Regions from separate parts of the Homo sapiens genome. Here region 1 is linked to region 2. Evidence: fine-mapped expression QTL. A gene starts in region 2. The other region holds a variant in brackets. All regions are shown on one strand. Distances are between the middles of the regions. Region 1 has its middle 38 kb from the start of ZNF239. Region 2 holds the start of ZNF487 (zinc finger protein 487).

Region 1 (5,375 bases), 100 kb after region 2:
CCATGGTAAGATGTGCCTTGCTTCCCCTTCACTTTCAGCCATGATTGTAAGTTTCCTTAGGCATCCTCAGCCATGTGGGACAGGACTGTGCGTCAATTAAACCTCTTTTCTTTATAAATTACCCAGTCTCATATAGTTCTTTATACCAGCGTGATAATGGACTAATACACCATTATTACTAAACTACTTACCCGGTAAGGAATCCAGAGAGGCCAGACATGGTGGCTCATGCCTGTATTCCCAGCACCTTGGGAGACGAAGGCACCAAGGCAGGAGGATTGCTTGAGCCCAGGATTTTGAGACCAGCCTAGGCAACATGATGAGACCCTGTCTCTATATTAAAAAGTTATTATTAAAAAAGAATCCACATAGTGTGACTGTAAACTCAGAGTCAGCCAAATGGAATAATAAACTATGCAACAGTTAAATACAAAATTATTTAAAGGATTTTTGCTTCCACCTATAAAAGGAATTTTTGCTTCCACCCATTCTCCAGTATTTGTGGTCTTAAACAACTGGCAAACTGGCCAAGATAGATGAAATAACTAGAAAACTGGAAAAATGTATGAAACAACTGTTTTAAGACTTGGATATTAGGAATTGCACAACCATGATTCTTGAAAGAAAGGAAGCAAATATGGCCAGTCTTATGATTGGCACAGCTTCTTGTCAGAAGGAAATTCCTAGACTATGGCATAGATAGAGATAACTCCAAACATATTCTTATTCTTTGAAGCATAAATATTTCAGAGTTCAAGAAGTTTAAGGCAGCTGTAGTATGTGGACTAGCATACTGGAAAGGGAGCTAGCAGAGACAATTTGAGAAATCTGAGTACCAATCTGCATATGCAACGGGTCATGTTCTTTAAGGCTTGGCAAAGAACAGCTGCTGCCAAAGGAGCAATTATTGGGGAACTCAAAGACAAACACTTCCCAGATCTCATACAGAGTTGGGAATAATTCAAGCTCCCACCAGCCAAGACTCTTTCTCCTTCAGTTCCTGAGATGACAGTCTCTTTCTCCATTAGTATGGATTTTTGAAGATCCCATGGATATATTGGGAGTGGGCAAGGATTGGGCATGTTTGAGATGCTGTATTGATCTGCTTGGGCTGCCATAACAAAATACCACAGACTTGGTGGCATAAACAACAGACATTTATTTTTGCATAATTCTGTAGGCTTGAAGTCCATCATCAAGGTGCTGGCAAATTCTCTTTCTGGTAAGTGCTTCCTGGCTTCTGGATTGCTGCCTTCTCACTATATCCTCACATGGCACTTCCTCATGGCTTGCAGGGTGGGGGATGGGGAGATAGAGCATGTGCTCTAGTATCTCTTATTTGAAAGACATATTCTATTAGATCAGGGCCCACTCCTACTACCTTATTGAACCTTCCCTGCTGCCAAAGAGGCCCTATCTCAAAATAAAGCCACACTGGGGCTTATCGCTTCAATATATGAATTTTGGGGGGACACAAACATTTCATTTATTATATTCTGCTCCTAGCCCCTCAAAGTTCATGTCCTTGCATTTGAAATACATGCATTCCATCCCAACAATCCCAAAAGTGTTACTCATTCCAGCATTAATTCTGTAGATCTGAAGTCCAAAGTGTCATCTAAATATTATCTAAATCATGAAAGGGTGACCATTGAGGTATGATTCATTCTGAGGCAAAGTTCCTTTCCAGGTATGAAACAAGTGAAACCAGACAAAGTATGGGCTTCCAAAATGTAGTGGTTGTATATGCATAGGATAGACATTCCTGTTCCACAAGGAAGAAATCTGAAAGAAAGGAGTGACGGTCCCAAGCCAGTCCAAAACCAGCAAAACAAATTCCATTAGATCTAAGGCTTGAGAATGACCTCTTTATTGGCCAAGCATGGTGGCTCATGCTTGTAATCCCAGCACTTTGGGAGGCCAAAGCGGGTGGATCACTTGAGGTCAGGAGTTCAAGACCAGCCTGAAACATGGTGAAACCCCTTCTCTACTAAGATTATAAAATTAGCTGGGCGTGGTGGCACATGCCTGTAATCCCAGCTACTTGGGAAGCTGAGGCAGGAGAATTGCTTGAATCCGGGAGATGGAGGTTGCAGTGAGCCAAGATCATGCCATTGCACTCTAGCCTGGGCAACAATAGCAAAACTCTGTCTCAAGGGAAAAAACAAAACAAAACACCTCTTTGGCTCAATGCCCTTCCTGCCTGGGGTGGTGGCCTCAACCCCCATGGCCCTAGGTGGTTGTTCCACCACATACTCTGTCGGGTGGACCTGCCCACAAGGCCCTAGGCAGGGTTAACCTGGCCTGTTTAAACTGAAGAAATGGTGGCTTTAT[T/G]CTTTGAAACCAAGGAGGGAGCCTTTATGATCTTTGGGGTCATTCTTCCCTTTCAAAGAATAGTGCATCTCCCAACCAAATAGCTCTGTTGTCCCATCCTGCAAAATCCAAGAAGCCCAGCAGTCTTCCCTTTTCCATCACCTTCAGTTCAATTTGACAGTATTTCTACTTATATAATCCCTTAATCTCTCTGTTGAGCGGCAATCCAGTCACATCCTCAGTGTTTTCTTCAGAACATGCTTCTCTTTTGCAGTGTGGATAGGCTCAGAATTTTACAAATCTTTAAGTTCTTGTTCGCTTTTGCCAATCATTTCTTCAATTCTCTGTCTTCTCAGATTTTACTGTAAGCAATCAGAAAGACCCAGGCCACACCTTCCTTGTTTTGCTTAGAAATCTCAACTAAATATCTGGTTTTATCACTTGCAAATTCTACTTTCCACAAAACTAGAACACAACTCAGCCAGCTTTGCCACCTTATAACAAGGATTGCCTTTCCTCCAGTTTCCAGTAACACGGTCCTCATTTCTGTTTAGGCCTCACCAGAATGGCCTTTCACATCCACATATCTATGAACATTGTGTTCATGTTGACATATGTATTCTGGGACAATAGAGGCTCTCTCTGTTTCTCTTACTTTCTTTTTGAGCTCTCACCAGAATTTCCTTTAATCTTAGTATTTTCACCAACAGTCCCTTAAGGCAATCTAGGCTTTTTCTAGCATGTACTTTAAAGCTCTTTTGGCCTCTTCCCATCACCCAGTCCCAAAGCCACTTGCACATTTTTAGGTATTATAGCAGCACCCCACTTTATGGTGCCAAAATCTGCATCAGTATGCTTGTGCTGCCTTAAGATACTACAGAAGGGGCCAGGTGCAGTGGCTCATGCCTGTAATCCTAGCACTTTGGGAGGCCAAAGCCAGCAGATCACTCGAGCTCAGGAGTTCGAGACCAGCCTGGGCAACATGGCAAAACCCTGTCTCTACTAAAAATACAAAAATTAGCTGGGCATGGTGGTGGGCACCGGCAGTCCCAGCTACTCAGGAGGCTGAGGTGGGAGGATCGCTTGAACACAGGAGGCAGAGGTTGTAGTGAGCCAAGATAGCACCACTGCACTCCAGCCTGGGTGACAGAGTGATAATCTGTCTGTAAAATAAAATAAAATAAAATAAAATACAATTCTACGGAAGAGATTGCTTAACTAACAGAAACTTATTCTCTCACAGTTCTGAAGGCTAGAAGTCCCAGACTGAGTTCCTGGAAGATTAAGTTTCTTGTGAGTGCTCTCTTTGTTCCTGGCTTACAGATGGCCACCTTCTTGCTATGTCCTCACATAGCCAGCCAGCCAGCCTTCCTTCCTTCCTTTCTTCCTTCCTTCCTCTTCCTTCTTCTTCCTTCCTTCTTCTTCTTTTCTTTTTCCTTCCTTCGTTCCTTTGTTGTGGAAAGTCAGGGACCCTGAACGGAGGGACTGGCTGGAGCTGTGGCAAAGGAACATAAATTGTGAAGATTTCATTTTAATATGGACATATATCAGTTCCCAAATAATACTTTTATAATTTCTTACACCTGTCTTTACTTCAATCTCTGAACATAAATTGAGAAGATTTCATTTTAATATGGACATTTATCAATTCCCCAATAATACTTTTATAATTTCTTATGCCTGTCTTTAATCTCTTAATCCTGTTATCTTCATAAGCTGAGAACATACGTCACCTCAGGACTATTGTGATAATTTTGTTAACTGTACAAATTGATTGTAAAACGTGTGTTTGAACAATATGAAATCAGTGCACCTTGAAAAAAACAGAATAACAGTGATTTTCAGGGAACAAGGGAAGACAACCATAAGGTCTGACTGCCTGTGGGGTCAGGCAAAATAGAGCCATATTTTTCATCTTTCAGAGAGCCTATAAAAGGATGTGCAAGTAGGGAAGATATCACTAAATTATTTTCCTAGCAAGAAATATTAATAAATAATACCCTGGGGAAGGAATGCCTTCCTTGCGGGAGGACTATAAGTGGCCGCTCTCGGAGTGTCTGTCTTAGGCAGTCTCTGAGATAAGGACTGAAATACGCCCTGGTCTCCTGCAGTACCCTCAGGCTTACTAGGATTGGGAAACTCCACCATGGTAAATTTGTGGTCAGACTGGTTCTCTGCTCTTGAACCCTGTTTTCTTTTGTTTAAGATGTTTATCAAGACAATATGTGCACAGCTGAACATAGATCCTTATCAGTAGTTCTGATTTTGCCCTTGTCCTGTTTCCTCAAAAGCATGTGATCTTTATTCTGCCTTTTGTCCTTTGAAGCATGTGATCTTTGTGACCTACTCCCTATTCGTACACCCCCTCCCCTTTTGAAATCCTTAATAAAAACTTGCTGGTTTTGTGGCTCAAGTGGACATCACAGTCCTATCGATATGTGATATCACCCCCAGAGGCCCAGCTGTAAAATTCCTCTCTTTGTACTCTTTCCTTTATTTCTCAGCCAGCCATCACTTATGGAAAATAGAAAGAATCTACATTGAAATATTGGGGGCTGTTTCCCCCGATATTTTTCCTTCCTTCTTTCTTTTCTTTCTTTCTCTTTTTTCTCTCTCTTTCTTCTTTCTTTCTCTCTCCTTCCCTTCCTTCCCCTCCTTCTCTTCTCTTCTCTTTCTTTTTTTCAGAGTCTTGCTCTGTCTCACAGGCTGGAGTGTAGTGGTGCCATCTTGGCTCACCACAACTTCCACCTCCCAGGTTCAAGCAATTCTCCTGCCTCAGCCTTCTGAGTAGCTGGGATTACAGGCGTGAGCCATCATGCCCAACTAATTTTTGTATTTTTAATATAGACAGGGTTTCACTGTGTTGGCCAGGCTGGTCTGGAGCTCCTGACTTCAGGTGATCCACCTGCCTCAGCCTCCCAAAGTGCTGGGATTACATGCATGAGCCTCCTCTTTGTCTCTTTGCCTTCTTTCCTTTTTTCCTTCCTTCCTTCCTTCCTTCTTTCCTTCCTTCTCTCTCTTTCTTTCTTCTTTCTCTCTCTCTCTCTTTCTTTCTTGTTTTA
Region 2 (5,375 bases):
CGGCTAATTTTTTGTATTTTTAGTAGAGACGGGGTTTCACCGTGTTAGCCAGGATGGTCTCGATTTCCTGACCTCGTGATCCGCCCGCCTCGGCCTCCCAAAGTGCTGGGATTACAGGCGTGAGCCACCGCGCCCGGCCACTCAAAGATTATTTCAACAATTTTAGGTGGGGCGCGGTGGCTCATGCCTGTAATCCCAGCACTCTGGGAGGCCGAGGCAGGCGATCACTTGAGGTCAGGAGTTTGAGACCAGCCTGGCCAACCTGGTGAAACCCCATCTCTACTAGGTGGCAGGTGCCTGTAATCCCAGCTATTCGAGAGGCTGAGACAGGAGAATTGCTTGAACCTGGGAGGCAGAGGTTGCAGTGAGCCGAAATTGTGCTACTTCACTCCAGCCTGGGCGACAGAGCAAGACTCCTTCTCAAAAAAAAAAAAAAAAAATTTTTTTTAAATCCAGAAAGCAGGAGGAATAGAGAGGAGCTAAAGCTGTCATTGGAGAAAAAGCAGTAATTACTCATGCTAGCTGAAGAAGGGATGTTTATTCTTCTGTGTGTGTGGTTGCGCAGTGCCAGTTTTTATTTATGCAGGCAAGATCACTGATCGGAATTATTTTCTCCTTCCCTCAGTCACAGAAAGAACTCGTCTGATATCAATTTTCTGTGAACCTGTTTATGTTCATCAAGTAATCCAGGCCAGCTACCGTGGGTCTCAGGGCTTTTTTTTTTTTTTTTTTTTTTTTTTGGGACAGAGTCTCGCTCTTGTTGCCCAGGCTGGAGTGCAATGGCGAGATCTCGGCTCACAGCAACCTCTGCCTCCCGGGTGCAAGCTATTCTCCTGCCTCAGCCTCCCGAATAACTGGGATCACAGGCATGTGCCACCACACCCAGCTAATTTTGAATTTTTAGTAGAGTTGGAGTTTCACCATGTAGGCCAGACTGATCTTAAACTCCTGATCTCAGGTGATCCACCCGCCTTGGCCTCCCAATGTGTTAGGATTACAGGCGTAAGCCACCACGCCCGGGCTTTTTATTTTTTTTCTTAATGATGCTGCACCTAATCACATTTAGGTGGCAGGCAAAAGAATATTGCTTAGCTGCTTTGCTACAGAAATGACAACTCTTGGGCAGGGGCGCGGTGGCTCACGCCTGTAATCCTACCACTTTGGGAGGCCGAGGCCAGTGGATCACCTGAGGTCAAGAGTTCGACACCAGGCCGGGCACGGTGGCTCATGCCTGTAATCCCAGCACTTTGGGAGGCCGAGACGGGCGGATCACGAGGTCAGGAGATCAAGACCAACCTGGCTAACACGGTGAAACCCCGTCTCTACTAAAAATACAAAAAATTAGCCGGGCGTGGTGGCGGGCGCCTGTAGTCCCAGCTACTCGGGAGGCTGAGGCAAGACAATGGCGTGACCCTGGGAGGCGGAGCTTGCAGTGAGCTGAGATCGCGCCACTGCACTCCACCCTGGGTGACAGAGCGAGACTCCGTCTCAAAAAAAAAAAAAAAAAAAAAAAAAAAGAGTTCGACACCAGCCTGGCCAAAATGGTGAAACCCCATCTCTACTAAAAACAAAAAAAATTAACCGGGCGTGGTGGCGGACGACTGTAATCCCAGCTACTCGGGAGCCTGAGGTAGGAGAATCACTTGAACTCGGGAGGCGGAGGTTGCAGTGAGCCAAGATCGCGCCACTGCACTCCAGCCTGGGCAACAAGAGCGAAACTTCGTCTCCAAAAAAAAAAAAAAAAAAAAGGACAACTTTTGATCCCTGAGGCTGCTAATTCCAACTGTGTGCATGTGCTTAACAAATACCTCCGCACCCAGGCCTGGGAAGTTGGCTGATTTGTGTACAGCAAATACGGCAGGCCTGATGTAGCAGAACTCTGACGAAAACGAACTGGACGCGTATTTCTCCTGCAGCGAAGGTCACGCTGCTGACAGCCTCTGCTTTGCACTTTGTCCCTGGGAAGGAGGCCTGTGGCCAGTCCTACCTCCTGGAAAGCCGGGGTGCGTCAGAGGACCTGATGCGGAGCGGGGACCCCATCCTCTCCGTGTCTCCCCAAGAGCCGGCGGCAGAGGCTGCCTGCGCTCCTTAAGCTAGGTCAGTTCTCTGGCCCGCAGTTCTCGTTCTCCTAACATCCTCCGCAGAAAACGACCTTCATTTTTTCCTCTTGCGCCAGTCTTGAAGCGGGGCGTCCTTTGGGCTCACGTTGCGGCGCCCAGCGGCCTCAAGCGTCAGCTGCCTCCAGGGCCTCAGGAGCAGTGGCTAGGGCCTGCCCTCCAGCGCCCGGGGTCCTCGGCCCAGCCCTGCTCCGAGCGCGTCACAATGGCGTCGCGGCCCCGCCCCCGGACGCCCAGCCGCGGTCCCAGCGACCTTCGCTTTCGTGGGGAAGCCGGACTGCGCCGTGTCTTCCTGAAGAAGGCTGGGGTAAGAGTCCGGCCAGCGGACAAGAGGGCAGCTGGTAGCAGGGTGGGATGCCCGTGGCATAGGGCCGAGCCCCCGCTAGGCACGCGGGAGCAGCAAGGCTTCCGGAAGCGCAGGGAGCGCTGGACTGGCGGGCGCCCGGGATTCGCGCAGGCCCCGCCCCTCGGCGGCCCCGCCCAGGGAGCGCTGCGGCAGTTTCCATGGTGAGATGGTCAACAAGCCTGTAAGTTCCTCAGCTACGACTACCAGGTACCTCGGGTTCCTCCCTCCTCCGAGAGACCGCCGAGGTGCGGGCTGTGAGAGGGGGAGCGTGGAGCCTCCGAGGCCGAGGTGAGGGGCGGCCGGCGGGCAGGGGCCGGGTCTGAGGTCGAGGGCCGCACACCCAGGATCGAGCGGGGACTGGGCCCGCTGGGGGTGGGGACCGTGGGGCTGGGATTTGGGATCAGGGCGAGTCGTGGCAGAGAGAACCCGGAGGATCTTTGACCCCAGTGCGGGAGCGGCCAGCCCACCCTAGAGAAGCGAGACAAGGGCAACCAGAAGGAACCGAGTCTGAGGAAGCGCTTCCTCTGGGCAGGGATATTGGGAGAGTCCTGGACGAGTGACCCTGGACCTAGGAGGCATGAGAGGTCTACACACACTTGCAAGGATACCTTCATGATTGTTGAGTTGTGGTGAGAAAAGAGGCTCTTTTTAGTTTATTTTTTAAGGCAGTACATTCACATCCTTAAGAGTCAGAAACTTGCACAAGGCCTTATTACTCAAAACTCCCTTTTCCCAGTTCCTTCTGAGGAAATAGTTGCAAATCTTTGAACTTTTTTCCTCCGGAAATTTTCTTTTTTTCTCTTACATCGGCAGCTCTTCACTGTGTTCTTCCTTCATTAGCTTTACTAAGTTTGTATTCTTTGGTTGGAAATATTTATTTATTTATTTATTTATAAATAGAAACAGGGGTATCACTATGTTGCTCAGGCTGGTCTTGAACTCCTGGGCTCAAGTGATTCTCCTGCTTTAGCTTTCCAAAGTGCGGGGATTACAGGCTGAACCACCGCCTGCCACCGAAATATTTCTTCATTGAGTTCCTTTGCCTCCTAGTGTTACTTTTCTGCTGTGTGTGTAATAGCCATTTGTTTTTTCTTTCTCCTTTCTGGTCATATCCTTAAATACATTTTGCACTAATTCCTTTTGAAACCTCATCATGGAGAGAACTTGAATTTAGCAGATTAGGGGTGAGTGCAGGCTTTTGTCTTAGGTTCCATATATATATATATTTTGAGGTGGAGTCTCCCTCTGTCGCCCAGGCTGGAGTGCAGTGGCGTGATTTTGGCTCACTGAAACCTCCACCTCCTGGCTTCAAGCAATTCTCCTGCCTCAGCCTCCCAAGTGACGAGGGTTACAGGCACGTGCCACCACACCCGGCTAATTTTTGTATTTTTAGTAGAGACAGGGTTTTGCCTTGTTGGCCAGGCTGGTCTCGAATTATTGACCTCAGGTGATCCACCTGCCTCAGCCCCCCAAAGTGCTGGGATTACAGGCGTGAGCCACTGCACCCAGCCCCCATATATTAAGAAATATACCCTTGTGTATTGTTGGTAAGAATGTAAAATGGTACAGCAGCTATGGAAAACAGTATGGCAGTTCCCTCAAAAAATTAACAAATAGAATTGCCATATGATCCAGCAGTACCACTTCTGGGTCTGAATCCAAGAGAAATGAAAGCGGGGACTCAGTTACTTGTACAGTCATGTTCATAGCAGCATTATTTGCAATAGTCAAAAGGGAGAGGTAACCCCAGTGTCCATTGATAGATGGATAAACAAAATGTGTCATATACAATAGAATATCATTCAGCCTTAGGAAGAAAATCTTGGCTGGATGCAGCGGCTCATGCTGGTAATCCCAGCACTTTGGGAGGCCAAGGTGGGAGGATTGCTTGAGTCCAGGAGTTCCAGACCAGCCTGAGCAACATAGCGAGATCCTGTTTCCACAAAAAATAAAATAAAATAAAGAATACAAAAATTAGCTGGGCAGGCCGGGCGCGGTGTCTCACGCCTGTAGTCCCAGCACTTTGGGAGGTCGAGGTGGGTGGATCAGAGGGTCAGGAGTTTGAGACCAGCCTGGCCAATATGGTGAAACCTTGTCTCTACTAAAAGTACAAAAATATTAGCCGGGCATGGTGGCACATGCCTGTAATCCCAGCTACTTGAGAGGCTGAGGCAGAAGAATTGCTTGAATCCGGGAGGCCGAGGTTGCAGTGAGCCGAGATCACGCCACTGCACTCCAGCCTGGGTGACAGAACGAGATTCCGTCTCAAAAAAAAATCAGCTGGGCATTGTGGCATGTGCCTGTAGTCCTAGCTACTCTGGAAGCTGAAGTCGGAGGATTACATGTGCCTAGGAGGTTGAGGCTTCAGTGAGCCATGATTGCACTGCTGTACTCCACCCTGAGTGACAGAGCAAGACTCCATCTCTTCAAAAAATAAAAATAAGATGGCCGGGTGCGGTGGCTAACGCCTGTAATCCCAGCACTTGGGGAGGCCGAGGAGGGCAGATCACCTAAGGTCAGGAGTTCAAGACCAGCCTGGCCAACATGGTGAAACCCTGTCTCTACTAAAAATACAAAAATTAGCTGGGCATGGTGGTGGGCGCCTGTAATCCCAACTACTCAGGAAGCTGAGGCAGGGAGAATTGCTTGAACCTGGGAGGTGGAGGTTGCAGTGAGCCGAGATGGCACCACTACACTCTAGCCTGGGTGACAGAGTGAGACTCCATCTCAAAAATAAATAAATAAGTGAAAATAAAAAAGAAAATGTCATATGCTGCAACATGGATGAATGTTGACGATATTATGTTAAGTGAAGTAAACCAGTAATGGACAAATATTGTATGATCCCCACTTATATGAGAATCTGAAGTAGTCAAATTCATGTAAACAGAAAAGTAGAATGGTGGTTGCTA

Evidence for each region. PIP is the estimated chance that this variant, and not a neighbour inherited with it, causes the effect. A credible set is the group of variants that fine-mapping cannot tell apart.
Region 1: its variant is the best candidate, but not a certain one, in a credible set for the expression of ZNF487 in whole blood (TOPMed, PIP 0.82).

Annotation. Positions count from the first base shown.
Region 1 is chr10:43,534,069-43,539,443 of GRCh38, forward strand. No RefSeq gene overlaps it. Among named protein-coding and RNA genes, the nearest start is that of ZNF239, 38 kb to the right of the region's middle. The variant T/G (reference allele first, on the strand shown) is at 2,335.
Region 2 is chr10:43,434,512-43,439,886 of GRCh38, forward strand. It overlaps ZNF487 (zinc finger protein 487), which reads left to right and starts at 2,600. Exons shown (of 4, transcript NM_001355444.3): 1 at 2,600-2,751. RefSeq lists an enhancer at 2,055-2,124 and a silencer at 2,225-2,884.